4 linked regions of the Homo sapiens genome follow. The protein of the gene in region 1 purifies or fractionates together with the protein of each later gene. This does not show direct contact. Each region holds a gene or a part of one and is shown on either strand. Other genes may lie near its edges.

Evidence for each region.
Region 2: the proteins of CDK17 (region 1) and SUGP1 purify together in Homo sapiens (affinity purification with mass spectrometry; 2 studies listed by BioGRID and IntAct, with this or other methods). This does not show direct contact.
Region 3: the proteins of CDK17 (region 1) and PCCB purify together in Homo sapiens (affinity purification with mass spectrometry; one large-scale study listed by BioGRID and IntAct). This does not show direct contact.
Region 4: the proteins of CDK17 (region 1) and ACACB purify together in Homo sapiens (affinity purification with mass spectrometry; one large-scale study listed by BioGRID and IntAct). This does not show direct contact.

Annotation. Positions count from the first base shown.
Region 1 is NC_000012.12:96,393,741-96,397,439, reverse strand, and holds part of CDK17 (cyclin-dependent kinase 17), read left to right. Parts: intron 1-3,699. UniProt on the Homo sapiens protein: May play a role in terminally differentiated neurons. Has a Ser/Thr-phosphorylating activity for histone H1.
Region 2 is NC_000019.10:19,310,362-19,314,060, forward strand, and holds part of SUGP1 (SURP and G-patch domain-containing protein 1), read right to left. Parts: intron 1-3,699.
Region 3 is NC_000003.12:136,256,789-136,260,487, forward strand, and holds part of PCCB (propionyl-CoA carboxylase beta chain, mitochondrial isoform 1 precursor), read left to right. Parts: intron 1-2,387; coding exon of another isoform or gene 2,388-2,447; intron 2,448-3,690; coding exon 3,691-3,699. UniProt on the Homo sapiens protein: This is one of the 2 subunits of the biotin-dependent propionyl-CoA carboxylase (PCC), a mitochondrial enzyme involved in the catabolism of odd chain fatty acids, branched-chain amino acids isoleucine, threonine, methionine, and valine and other metabolites.
Region 4 is NC_000012.12:109,259,536-109,263,234, forward strand, and holds part of ACACB (acetyl-CoA carboxylase 2), read left to right. Parts: intron 1-529; coding exon of another isoform or gene 530-614; intron 615-944; coding exon 945-1,122; intron 1,123-2,821; coding exon 2,822-2,934; intron 2,935-3,699. UniProt on the Homo sapiens protein: Mitochondrial enzyme that catalyzes the carboxylation of acetyl-CoA to malonyl-CoA and plays a central role in fatty acid metabolism.

The DNA of each region.
Region 1 (3,699 bases):
ATGTACTCTGGTTACCAGAATGAAAAAACAAAAAGAGATACATACATAGTAAGGAAACATGAAATTGGAGGAATTGATCCCCATGTGTATTGCAGCTTCATATACCAGTAGTCTCTAATAAGTCATTGCTTTAATAAAAAAAAAAATAGAAAATTTAAATTTTATTTGCCCGGTAGCACAGGGATAGCTATGTTGACTAAGCGCAGATTTTAACGTATATGTTTGTTGATATATTTAGTTTTCAGATACCAGTTCAGTCCTACAATTATGGCGAAACTAGATGGCATATAAAATCATTTTGTTGCTTTGTTGAGGCTTGTTTTTTTCCTTATTTTCAGCAATATTTTCCTTCTTTCCTTTCACTGAAAAACAATGCAACTATTTTATTTTGAACAATGGAAGCTGTAATGGCAACTGGGGTAGCTATTCAAAAGTGGAGATGACGATGTCCCTTAATATTATAACAGTTATCTGTGAACACAAAAATTTTTACCCTATGATTTTCTTTGTTATTGTCTACTAATGCTGAATATTTATAAGACATTACATTTTGAATCTTTATTGATGTTTCCTAGTCTTTAGAAAATTTTACCGTCATGGGCTAGCATTCTTTTACATGGCATTTAGATTTCCAGGATGTTCTTTGTATTTTTTGTTTGTTTGTTTGTTTTGTTTGTTTTAGACTTTCAGGATGGATAATTACTTTATTGCTATATTGTAAAAATTATATTCTCTAGGGAATTTTACCTGTTTAAAAAATTGTCTCAGTTTTCATACATGGGAAGGATGAATAGTTTTAGGTTCTTTTGAATTTTGAATGGATAATTTTTGCCTAAACTTTTAAACAGGAAATCGGTATTTAAAGTATATTTCATAAAGTGATAATGGCATTTTGCATTTTAAATGCAGAAGATAAACAATAGGTTTATGGCATTTAAAAATGTGCTTTATGTAGCATTTTTGAAGTTAAAAAAACTGCCTGTAATAGCGAACCTAGTGTAGTTCACTAGCATTCAATCTACAATGTTGGCAATTTCTTTGAACTGATGGGGAGAGGACCAGTTAGACTGGCTTTTAAGAATTTTTATTGTCATCAGTGGATTCTTTGTCATTATTTTGCTTCCAATATAGTTAGTTGGTGGTTACTTTTGATATCTGCAAAATATTGACCTGGCAAGAGGAATTGCCAAGGGCCAGAGAAGTGTATTGAATATACCTCAGTGTAGTTTATTGTTCCCAGCCTGTCTGCCTCTCCCTGTTGGCCAACATGGAAAATCAATAGACATCTACCAGTAAATCTAATAAGTAATGTTACCGTGTTCTGCAGTAACCTGCAATACTGAATACTGTTTGAGGATGTAGATTTACAGATCTATGGCATATTGGGATGAGGTGAAAATTATCTTGCTCTCCAAAGTCTCCTTTTGAAAATATTTTTTGATATCACCTTATTTTACTTGGGGTACTATAACAAAATACCATACATTGAGGTGGCTTAAAACACAGACGTATTTTCTCACAGGTCCGGGGCTGGAAGTCTGAAATCAGCTAAGCACCTGCCCTCTCAGCTGTCTTCTCCCTGGGCACTCTTAAGTCCTTTCCTCCCTGTCTGCAGGTGAAGTGGGAGGGAGGGGAGGGAGAGGTGAGGATGTCTTTTTCTTTTCTACTTAAAAGGGCACAAATCCCGTCATGAGAGGGTCTCACTCTTAGGACCTAATCTAAACCTAATTACTTCCCAAAGGTCCACCTCTAATAGCCATCACACTGGGAGGTTTGGACTTCAACATGTGAATTTTGGGGGTACACAGATCTTCAGTCCATAACATAAACTTTGTGAAAGAAATTAACGTTAATTATTTACCTCCTCTACTAGGCACTATGCTAAGTATTATTTTGTGAAATCCTCACAATAAGCGCTTCATATAGGTATTCTGCCTGTTTTCAAATGAAGAAACAAAGACCTTAGGTTAAGTCATTGTTTCCAGGGACCGACCTCTGTGGTAACATTGACATTCCAGTTTAGGCATTCAAACCACTACTCTACACTGTCTCCATGAGGATGAGATGTTAAAAAGTCAATGTTACTGTCTGCACTCTATAAACAATGAGTGAGATATTAGAAAAGCTCATCAAAATGCGATTTAAAGTACATTGAACTGGTTTTACTACATTAAAAGATTGCAGTATATAAAATATGTAAGGTAGGACATGTTGCTCAAAATGAATTAAAAATCAAGATGCTAAAAAAATTTAAAACATTTATATGGGCGAGGCATGGTGGCTCACGCCTGTAATCCCAGCACTTTGAGAGGCTGAGCCGGGCAGATCACAAGGTCAAGAGTTCCAGTCCGGCCTGGCCAACATGGTGAAACCCGGTCTCTACTAAGAATACAAAAATTAGCTGGGCACGGTGGTGCATGCCTGTAATCCCAGCTACTCGGGAGGCTGAGGCAGGAGAATTGCTTGAACTTGGGAGGCAGAGGTTGCAGTGAGCCAAGATCGCACCATTGCACTCTAGCCTGGCGACAGAGCAAGACTCTGTCTCGGGGGAAAAAAATTATAGATTTTTTGAATAAATAATAAATAAAAATAAAATAATAAATATTTTTTGTCTACCTTTTTTTTTTCTTTTTTTTTTTTTGAGACGGAGTCTCTCCCTCAGTTGGCCCAGGCTGGAGTGCAGTGTTGCAGTTGCGTGATCTCAAGCTATTCTCGTGCCTCAGCCTCCGGAGTAGCTGGGACCACAGGTGGTGTGAGCTTCCACGTCCAACTAAATTTTGTATTTTTAGTAGAGATGGGTTTTCACCATGTTGGCCAGGCTGGTCTCGAACTCCTGACCTCAGGTGATCTGTGCACCTCGGTCTCCCAAAGTGCTGGGATTACACGTATGAGACACCGTACCCGTGCTTCTCTACCTTTTAATAACACATTTTTGTTTCTTTTTATGCATTTGTTAGTGTAAATATGTTCAAGAATACTCTACATTTTGTGTACATGTTTGTAAACAAGGGAAAAGGACCCAAAGATAATTTCTCTTTCATTGTATTCTAGTTCAGTTACTAACTTTGGCCTTCTCAAGTCATATTAATCTACTATTCTTATAATTGATGGGTAATGTTTGTTATTAGTATGTGTTAATATTCAATAATGTAAACAACGTTGGTAAATACTTGTGAGAAATTTTTTTTTTTTTTGAGATGGAGTCTCACTCTGTTGCCCAGGCTGGAGTGCAGTGGCGTGATCTTGGCTCACTGCAACCTCCGCCTCCCGGGTTCAAGTGATTCTCCTGCCTCAGCCTCCCGAGTAGCTGGGATTACAGGCGTGCACCACCATGTCCAGCTAATTTTTGTATTTTTAGTAGAGATAGGGTTTCACCATGTTGGCCAGGCTGGTCTTGAGCTCCTGACCTCATGATCTGCCTGCCTTGGCCTCCCAAAGTGCTGGGATTACAGGTGTGAGCCACTGCACCTGGTCTATACTTGTGAGAAACTATCAAGTAACAGCATTGAAGCCCTTATCACTCCAAATTTAGACTTGCTCTTCTTTAAATTAGTTAATATGTGTTTTTTAGTATTATTTTAGAATAAACATTTTTTGAAGTATAACAACTTAGATTTTAGTATTTTATATTATTGACTTGTAATGTTATTTCTGGTGGAAAAAGAAGCTTTTCATTGAGTATGTGTGTGTGTGTTTGTG
Region 2 (3,699 bases), on another chromosome or scaffold:
CAAGAGACTACTGCGAAGTGCGCACAGCAGGCTTCAGTACGGTAAGCTGGGAACAATCTTGTTCTGATAAAAGCAATACTCCATGTATTATCTCTGCCTGAATATTAACCCTCCAGGTCCAAATGGCCCTCCAACAAGATGGCTCCTGCTCTCTCTGCACAGCACCTGTCCTCCCTTGCTAGTTGATTATCTGGGTTGTTACTGACTCATGTCTGTCCTCCTGCTAGACCTTAGAGTTTTCCAAGGCAGGGCCTACATGTCTCTCTCTCTCTGTCTCTCTCCCTCTCTATCTATCTATCCGAAACAGAGTTTTACTCTGTCGCCCAGGCTGGAGTGCAGTGGGGCAATCTTGGCTCACTGCAACCTCCTCCACCCAGGCTCAAGAGATTGTCATGTCTCAGCCTCCTGAGCAGCTGGGATTACAAGCATGTGCCACCACACCTGGCTAATTTTTGTATTTTTGTAGAGATGGGGTTTCGCTATGTTGGCTGGGCTGTTCTCGAACTTCTAACCTCAAGCCATCCTCCCACCTCATCCTCCCAAGGTGTTGGGATTACAGGTGTGAGCCACCACACCTGACCTATTTATTTAAGAGACAGGGTCTTGCTCTGCTGCCCTGGCTAAAGTGCAGAGTGCAATGGTGCGATAACAGGGACTGCAGGCATGTGCCACTCTGCCTGGCTAATTTTTTAATTTTTTTTTTTTTTTTTGGTAGAGGTAACATCTCACTATGTTGCCTAGGCTGGTCTTGAACTCCTGGCCTCAAGCAATGGTCCCACCTCAGCCTCCCAAGTCACTAGGACTAAAGGCATGTGACACTGTTCCTGGCCAATGCCATTTTTTTGACAGGCATGAAGGGCAGCTCTGACAACAGTATATCAGCTGTGCTCAACTTTGATTTAAATATATTTAGGCCCCTGGGTTTGCCTTTGTGCTAACTTGTTAAAAACATATTTTTTAAAAAGTAAAACATATACTTTGCAAAAAAAAAAAAGAGGGAGAGAGTGAAGATAAAATATAAAATGCCCTGTGATTCTTCCAGCAAGATTGCTTTGGCTGTTTTCTTAGAAATGTTTGATGCCCAGGCTGGGCGCGGTGGCTCACGCCTGTAATCCCAGCACTTTGGGAGGCCGAGGTGGGCGGATCACGAGGTCAGGAGATAGAGACCATCCTGGCTAACACAGTGAAACCCCATCTCTACTAAAAATACAAAGAATTAGCCAGATGTGGTAGCAGGCGCCTGTAGTCCCAGCTACCCGGGAGGCTGAGGCAGAAGAATGGCGTGAACCAAGGAGGCAGAGCTTGCAGTGAGCCAAGATTGCGCCACTGCACTCCAGCCTGGGCGACAGAGCGAGACTCTGTCTCAAAAAAAAAAAAAAAAAAAAAAAGAAATGTATGATGCCCAAAGAAATGCTTGCAGATCCCAGCTCTGAGCTGCAGGCCCACATGGGTAAAGAAACACAGGCTTTGGCTAAGCATGGTGGCTCATCCCTGTAATCCCAGCTACTTGGGAGACTGAGGTAGGAGAATCACTTGAGCCCAGGAGTTTGAGGCTGCAGTGACATATGATCATGCCACTGCACGTCTGCCTGGGCAACAGAGTGAGATCATGTTTCTTAAAACAAAAAAAAGTAACAGAGGCTCATTATGGAACAAATGGAAATGTAGAAAAACTGAAATAAGCCTAGGCAATATGGAGAAAACCCCATCTCTACGAACAAAACAAAAAATTAGCTGGGTGTGGTGGCGTGTGCCTATAATTCCAGCATTCCAGAGGATCACCGGAGCCCAGGAGGTCAAGGCGGAAGTGGGCCGCAATCATGCCACTGCACTCTAGCCTGGGTGACAGAGTAAGATCATTTAAAAAAAAATAAAAAGAAAAACTGAAACAGAAAGGAATGGAAAAACCCAACAATGTCTCCCTACTTTGCAACAGCCACTATTAACACTGGTATATATCTTTATTTTGCTCTCTAAATTAGAAGTCAGAGGAAATAAGGCTGTGATCACAGCACACACTCTACTTCTTCCATTTCCTACTGTAGCACACCATCCTGCTCCAATCTCAAATTCCTCACATACGCTGCTTTTTAAACCCGCATGACGTTCCACCATATGGATGTACCCAATGGTGCAAAAAGCTCATGGAGTCCACAGGGCTAGCCTTTTTCCTTTAAATAGGAGAAAGGAATAATTTTTAGTTCATCAGAACTAAAATAACCTAAATACATCAACAAGGGGCACTGGTTAAATAAATTACGGGCCATCCACAGGGAAGATGGGGCAGCCCTGAAAAGTTGAAATTTTAGACAAGCAATCAAATACAATGTTAAAGGAAAAACAAGGCCAGGCGCGGTGGCTCACGCCTGTAATCCCAGCACTTTGGGAGGCCAAGGCGGGTGGATCACGTGGTCAGGAGATCGAGACCATCCTGGCTAAAACAGTGAAACCCCGTCTCTACTAAAAATTAAAAAAAAAATTAGCCGGGCATGGTGGGGGGCACCTGCAGTCCCAGCTACTCAGGAGGCTGAGGCAGGAGAATGGTGTGAACCCAGGAGGCAGAGCCTGCAGTGAGCCGAGATCGTGCCACTGCACTCCAGCCTGGGCAACAGCGCAAGACTCCATCTCAAAAAAAAAATAAATAAATAAAATAAATAAATAAAAAAAAACAAAAGGACAGGCTATAAAACAGTATCTACAGTGTGGTTCTACTTACATCAAAATACATTTGAATTAAAAATTGTTACAAAGGCCGGGTGCGGGACCTCACACCTGTAATCCCAGCACTTCGGTAGGCCAAAGCAGGCGGATCACCTGAGGTCAGGAGTTCAAGACCAGCCTGGCCAACATGATGAAACCCCGTCTCTACTAAAAATACAAAAAATTAGCCGGGCGTGGTAGCGGGCACCTGTAATCCCAGTCACTGGGGAGGCTGAGACAGAAGAATCACTTGAACCCAGGAAGCGAATGTTGCAGTGGGCCAAGATCGCGCCATTGCACTCCAGCCTGGACAACAGAGTTAGACTTCATCTCAAATATAAAAAAAAATTGTTAGACAAACACATCGGGCCAGGAGCAGTGGCTCACACCTGTAAACCTAATGCTTTGGGAGGCCAAGGTAGGAGGATCACTTGAACCCAGAAGTTCAAAACCAACCTGGGCAACATAGTGAGACCCCATCTACACAAAATTTAAAAATTAGCTAGGCATGGCAGTGGACATCTGTAGTCCCAGCTACTCAAGAGGCTGAGGTGGGAAGATAGCTTGAGTCCAGGAATTCCAGACTGCAGTGAGCTATGATAGTGCCACTGTACTGCAGCCTGGGTGACAGAGTGAGATCCTGCCTCTGAAATAAAACAGGCCCGGCACGGTGGCTCAAGGCTGTAATCCCAGCACTTTGGGAGGCAGAGGCGGGTAGGTCACCTGTGGCCAGGAGTTCAAGACTAGCCTGGTCAACATAGTGAAACCCTGTCTCAACTAAAATACAAAAAAATGGCCGGGCTCAGAGACTTATGCCTGTAATCCTAGCACTTAGGGAGGCCGAGGTGGGAGGAACAACCTGAGGCCAGGAGTTAAAGACCAGCCTGGCCAACATGATGAAACCCCATCTCTACTAAAATACAAAAATTAGCCGGGCACGATGGTGGGTTCCTGTAATCCCAGCTACTCGGGAGGCTGAGCAGGAGAATCACTTGAGCC
Region 3 (3,699 bases), on another chromosome or scaffold:
TACTTAGGAAGAGTCCTTAGTCTGTTTTGGGGGGGATCACAGGGCACTAGCCTTGTACAAAGGTATCCCAAGAACCAGGAATTTATTCCAAGTGAATGAGATTCCTCTTAGCTGGGTTGGGTGTGTGCCTGTAGGGCATCTGTGTCCTGGGCAGTGTATGTGGACTAGAGAGAGTGCAGTGGGTGCAGCCTCGCAAAGGGGACTTGACTCTCAGAACCAGAGTCCCCCTGAGCTTTGGGCTTTCATGAATATGTTCAGAAAATTTTATCAGGGTGCATCAAGACAGATACAGTTTGTTCACACACATAGCCAAAGCTATCAATATGTTATTTTACACGCAAAAGGGAATGAAGGTTGTTAATCAGCTGGCCTTGCAATAGGGAGAGTAGCCTGATTTATCCAGGTGGGCCCAATATAATCACAGGGTCCTTAAAAGTGGAAGAGGGAGGTAGAAGAGGAGCTTATAAGGATGTGATATGAGAAGGACATGATCTGCAGTACCTGGCTTTGAAGATGGGAGAAGGGGACCATCAGCAAAGGAGTGCCCATGGTCTCTAGGAGCTGGTAAAGGCAAGAAAACACATTTTCCCCTGGAGCCTCCAGAAGGGAGCACAGTCCTGCCAACCTTAATTTTAGCCCAGTCAATCCTGTGTAGCGCTTCTAAATTATAGAACTATAAGATAATACATTTGTGTTGTTTCAAGGCACTGAATTTATATTAATTTGTTATAGCGGTAATAGAAAACTAACACAGAATATGTTGTGTACTATTTTGGATTTGACTTTTTTCTCTCCAGAGGTGGAAATATGTATATAATTTAAAATGCTTAGGTCTTTTTACAGACCTAAAGTTTGATATTAAAATTGGCTAGGCGTGGTGGCTCATGCCTGTAGTCCCAGTACTTTGGGAGGCTGAGATGGGTGGATCACCTGAGGTCAGGAGTTTGAGACCAGCTGGCCAACATGGCGAAACTCCATCTCTACTAAAAACACAAAAATTAGCTGGGTGTTGTGGGTGCCTGTAATCCCAGCTACTTGGGAGGCTGAGGCAGGAGAATCGCTTGAACCTGGGAGGCGGAGGTTGCAGTGAGCCGAGTTTGCGCCACTGCACTCGAGCCTGGGTGGCAGAGTGAGACTCCATCTCAAACAAAAAAATAATAAAATAGTTATACTTGGTTAATTTAAAATCTGTCGTAGTTAGTATGCATTTACCAATTAAATTACCTTTGAAATGTTTTAAAACTGTTATAAATTGGTCTACCAAATGCCGAAATAGAAGGAATCACATTTGTTTTGTGCAATTTATGAGAGCTGAGAAAAACTTGTACAGAAGGAACCATTGAAAAGAGAGATAGAACAAAGATGTTTTCTGGACATGATGTTCACTCACCACTATTAAGCAGATGGAAGAATTCACTGAATTGATACTTTTGACCACCTCTTATGCTCATGTGGTAGGGTGGGAGTGAGGAGAAGGTGGAGATGACTGAGACAAGAGTTCCCACCCTGAAGAAGCGAATCATTTTATAGGCAGAATGGCACAGAACGGATGTAACTACAGAGCACATGGAGTGAGAGGTTCCAGGCAAATGCTGTAGACCCAAGACAAGGGAAAATCACATCCAGGGTTGAGGAAAGCTTTAGGAACAATGGGGCAATTGAGACAGGCCCTGAAGGATACTGAGGGTAGGGAGTGATGAGCTAGTGTTTTTTAATAGTGATCTCCAAGATGTTAATATCTTAGGTGCTTTTTCTGGGGAGCTTCTGTTCTTCTGGGGAGCCTCCTCAGTCCCTTGCCTGATAATTGGCTGTTGGTGTATTCTGAGGGGGAGAGAAAAAAAGGGGCCAGCACTCATTCAGTGTATAGGCTCCTAATCTTGCATGTTTTCAGCCTCACCTTTTCCTCTTTTAGGCTAGCGATTGTGAGTTTAGAACCCTTCTGGTTAATTTCCTTTAGAGAACAAACATTCTCTGTCCTCTCAAGGTGAAGGAGAGGCCCTGTGGGGTCTGACTGCTTCTAACAGAGACTTCTGTTAGTCTCTGTTTTCAGCCTCCTTCTCACCTCCACTTTCCATGGTTCCTGGGTTGTCTTCTCCTTGATTACCCCCACTGCAGGTGTGTAAGCTTCCATTCTCTCCCTCTAAATCAGGTATTTTCTTGTGCTTTCAGTTCCCCCCAAATTTGTTTAATCCTTCCTATGCTATTGTCTCCTTGTTCTTATTCTCACAGCTGATTCTGTTCTTAATTCCTAACTGTCTTTTTGAGGGGGTTTTAGGAGAGGTTATGCCCACAATAAGCCCTTTACATCTGAACATAATGAAGATCCATAAGCAGAAGAAGCAGTGAGAGCTCTGATTCTTGTTTTTTAACCTTTCTTTTTAAAACAGCAAATAATAGGCTGGGCACAGTGGCTCCCGCTTGTCATCTCAGCACTTTGGGAGGCCGAGGTGGGTAGATCACTTGAGGCCAGGAGTTTGAAACTGGCCTAGCCAACATGGCAAAACTGTCTCTAATAAAAATACAAAAATTAGCTGGGCCTGGTGGCACGTGCCTGTAATCCCAGCTACTCGGGAGGCTGAGGCAGGAGAATCACTTGAACCTGGGAGGCGGAGGATACAGTGAGCCAAGATTACGCCACTGCACTCCAGCCTGGGTGACAGAGCAAGACTTGGTCTCAAAATGATAAGTAAAATAAAACAGTAAATATTTCTTAAAAACAGAAGTGCTTGACTGTTTGATATCCATAGAATCTGATATTAGAGTTAATTCTGTGTGATAGGTTTTCCTTCAGAACTGCAAATCATTTCTTTTTTTTCCTTTCAAATCATTTTTGTAGAGCAAAGACTAGCTCTTTTGCTCTTGACAATTCATGAACTTCCTTTAAGATATTTTATTCTATGGAATAATCTATAAATCAGACTTCTTTTCTAATTTTTTAAACTTCTGAAAATGCTTTAAAAACTATATGTATGTATTTTTTTAAATACAGAGTCTCGCTCTGTCGCCCAGGCTGGAGTGCACTGGAGCAATCTCTGCCCACTGCAGCCTCCGCCTCTTGGATTCAAGTGATTCTCCTGCCTCAGCCTCCCGAGTAGCTGGGATTACAGGCACACACCACCACGCCCAGCTAATTTTTATATTTTAGTAGAGATGGGGTTTCACCATGTTGGCCAGGGTGGTCTGGAACTCTTGACCTCAAGTGATCCTCCTGCCTTGGCCTCTCAAAGTCTTGGGATTACAGGTGCGAGCCACCATGCCCGGGCAACTTTTTTTGTTTTGTTTTGTTTTGTTTTGTTTTGTTTTGAGACAGGGTCTTGCTCTGTTGCATAGGCTGGAATACAGTGGTGCTGTCTCAACTCACTGAAGCCTCTGTCTCCAGGGCTCAAGCAATCCTCCTGCCTCAGCCTCCCGAGTAGCTGGGATTCCAGGCATGTGCCACCATGCGCAGCTAACTTTTTTCTATATTTTTTGCAGATACGGGCTTCTGCCATGTCGCCCAGGCTGGTCTCAGACTCCTGGACTCAAGCCATCCACCTGCCTTGGCCTCCCAAAGTGTTGGGATTACAGGCATGAGCCACCACGCCTGGCCTAAAAACTTTTATCTGTGAATTTTCTATTTCTTCCTCCCACTGGGTTTTCATCTCTAGCCAGTCACTATATTTGACTTGCTGATTTGTATTTTCTTTTTAGGATTTTACA
Region 4 (3,699 bases), about 13 Mb from region 1:
CTGGGCAACGGAGTGAGACCCCCATCTCAAAAAAAAAAACAAAAAAACAAAAAAAAAACAATGAGGAACTGAGGGTTGGAGGCAAAGTGTCACTTTCTAGAGGTCACACCATGAGGTGCAGGTCAGGGAGGGGCAGCCCCAGGAGCTGCCGGGTGACCTGGGCAGGCACCTCCCCATTTGGCAAGGTGAGGAGGATGTTTGTCCACCCTTCCCTCTGCAGAAAGCTGCTCTGAGCCTCATGTGACCTTACAATTGTGTGAGGGCTTTTTAAGCCACCAAGCATGTTTTGGGAGAGAGTGGCTGTTGGATCACTGGGGTGTTGAGGACAGAGCTGGATGGGAGGCAGACAGACCTGCTGTGAGTCCTTGTTAACTGGGTGACATCACTGAGCCTCAGTTTCCCTCCTTTGTAAAAGGGGGTTAAGAACAGGACCAACCTCAGAGGGCCGAGGTAAGAGTCTGATGAGCTAATTGCTGACATGCAGTGTGATTGTCAGTGCTGTTATTATTGCATTCTTGTTTTCATGTAGGGTGCCTGGGGACCTGGAGAGATGTGTCTTGGTGGAAGATAAGGGCCATGTTGCCCATGCACATTGGGGAAGGATCAGTGTGACTGTTAGTGAGGGTTTTCTTTGCTGGAAATGGTGGGGCAGGGCAGGGACAGTCATGGGTGAGGGCATTTCAATTCCAGTTGGAAAGAATCCTAGAGATTGGTTTTTCCCTGTGCCTTCACAGATGAGGCCACTGAGGCCCACACTGGGTGAATGACCTGTTCGAGGTCACACAGCCACTTAGAGAGTGATCAGTACTCTCAAATCCCAGCCCAGTGCTCTCCAAGCCTCTCAGCTGGGCTCACTCTCCCAGGACCCCCAGGACAACTAGGGCAGTGGGTTTCATGTGTGGATGAGTGAGGGCCCTGAACTGGGAGGCTGCTTTGCTTTTCAGACATGTATGACCAGGTGCTGAAGTTTGGAGCCTACATCGTGGACGGCCTTAGACAATACAAACAGCCCATCCTGATCTATATCCCGCCCTATGCGGAGCTCCGGGGAGGCTCCTGGGTGGTCATAGATGCCACCATCAACCCGCTGTGCATAGAAATGTATGCAGACAAAGAGAGCAGGTGGGTGTGTTGCCCTTAGCCTGGCTTAGCCTTTTCTTGTTCTCCCAGCCTTGAGAGCCCATGACCTTGGGAGATCATGGAGGGATGCAGTGGCTGGAACCTGTAAGTGGTGGAGAAATGTTGTCTCTTCTTTCATGGTTTCCACTTCCCCTTCCCAAGGAAGTTTGCAATCAAAAAATAAAAAGGAAAGACCAAAAGCACTTGAACTTCCTGGCAGCCAGGATGAAAAGGGAAATATGATGAGCCATTTATCTCTCATTAGACTCTGAGCTATGAGTTCCTATAGGAAATGTTTTATTCAGTTTTATATCCCAGGGTCTAGCACAGTGCCTTACTCTCCTGGTAGGTGGTCAGAAAATACTGGCTAAACAAATGACTGAATGAATACTTGCATGAGAGGATACCGGTTCTTCGCGGGAGAGGTAACCTCCTTGGCACTTTCCTTAGGAGGAATTTATTCCAGAGATTCTTACAGAAAGGATGATGACAATAATGTTCACAGCACAGTGACTGATGACTTTGAAGTGAAAACTACATGCTACACAGGATGTCAAGGCCTCAAGAGTCATTCTACTCCAAATATAGGCACGGCATTCCTGTGTTCACTCCCTCATTCATTTGCTAATTCAATGAATATCCATTGATTACCTCACTGTATGCCAGCCATTCTGGTAGACATTATGATATGGTGGCAAATGGGCCAAGCTTGTCCTGCATTCAGGGCACTTAGACCCTTGTTAGGGACTGCTGAGGTCAGTCCTCCAGGAAGACTCAGGATACTGAGCAGCACTTGAATGGAGTCATTGCTAACTTTTCATGCTGGCCACCAGGAAGCTCAGAGCTACTGATAGCATTCTTCAGGGCTTCTAAGCTGTCAAAAGCAAAAGGGGGCAGGGGGAGAATAAGGGGTAAATAAAAATGTTGGAAATGAGGCCAGGCGTGGTGGCTCACGCCTGTAATCCCAGCATTTTGGGAGGCTAAGGGGGGCAGATCACTTGAGGCCAGGAGTTCAAGACCAGCCTGGCCAACACAGTGAAACCCCGTCTCTACTAAAAATACAAAAATTAGCTGGGCATGGTGGTACACGCCTGTAATCCAAGCTGCTCGGGGGGCTGAGGCAGGAGAATCACTTGAACCCGGGAGGCAGAGATTGTAGTGAACCGAGATAGTGCCACTGCACTCCAGCCTGGGTGACAGAGTGAGACCCTGTCTAAAAAAAAAACAAAAAAAAAAAAAAAGAAAGAAAAGAAAATGTATGTTGGAAATGGGAGGACAGCTCACACAAGACTACACTGGGCTCTCAAGGTGCTTTTGTGAGATTTAAAGCGATCAGAAACAGTGCCCCTCCTCTAGGAGGGCAGAAATTAGCAAAGTTAGAGAGGACTGTGGCTGGAGAGCAGGAGGGTTATGCTGCCATGGAAAAAGTCGTACACTCTTAGACCTGAAAGGGGCCCTCCAGAGTTCAGAAAGCATTATTTTAAACAGTTGGCTCAGTCTTTCCATCTGTGGGTAAAGATACAGAGGCCCAGAGAGGGAAAGTGACTTGTCTAAGGGCACACAGCATGTGTGGGGGTAAAAGAGCTGAGGACTGACACCCAGATCTTCTGGCTCTCTTCCCTCCAGCTCCCCCCACATCCATTAGCCCTTGCTTGCTGGGCAATGCCTCATATACCCCCATCCCTGCCTCTTCTCTTTTAAGGGGTGGTGTTCTGGAACCAGAGGGGACAGTGGAGATTAAGTTCCGAAAGAAAGATCTGATAAAGTCCATGAGAAGGATCGATCCAGCTTACAAGAAGCTCATGGAACAGCTAGGTAAGGGGGTCCCAAAGGCTTCACCTCTCAGAGGTCAAGAGAGGCCCAGCTGGCCCACTGCTGGGGGTTTCTAGGATGTTAAAAATAAAATGAAAAAATACCAAAATACAGCTATAATAACTGTGAGATTTTTAAAGATATTCACATTTGTCTGTTTGTTTTGTTTTGTTTTTTTGAGGTCTGGCTCTATTGCCTAGGCTGGAGTGCAGGGTGCAATCTCAGCTCACTGCAACCTCTGCCTCCCAGGCATAAGCCATCCTCCCATCTCAGCCTGAGTAGCTGGGACTACAAGTACGCAACACCATGCCTAGCTAATTTTTGTATTTTTGTAGATGTGGGGTTTCGCCATGTTGCCCAGGCTGTTCTCAAACTCCTGGGCTCAAGCAATCCACCTACCTCAGCCTCCCAAAATGCTGGGGTTACAGGCATGAGCTACCATGATTGGAGGACATTCACATTTCTAAATCAACCTTTTTAACATTATATATATATATATATATATATATATATATATTGCCATCGTGAATTTATTTCTCAGCATACACAAAAGATAGCAATTGAAGTATTTGGGGCTGATGGGGATTATCAGAATTTTGGTGGCAAAATGTTCCTTTAGAATTCCCAATCAGAGATAAGATATTTTACTAATTTTGTTTGAATGACAGCTTTGTTTTACTTGTCATCTTTAGATGTAATTATCTTTATTTATTTATTTGTTTATTTTTGAGACAGAGTCTTGCTCTGTTGCCCAGGCTGGGGTGCAGT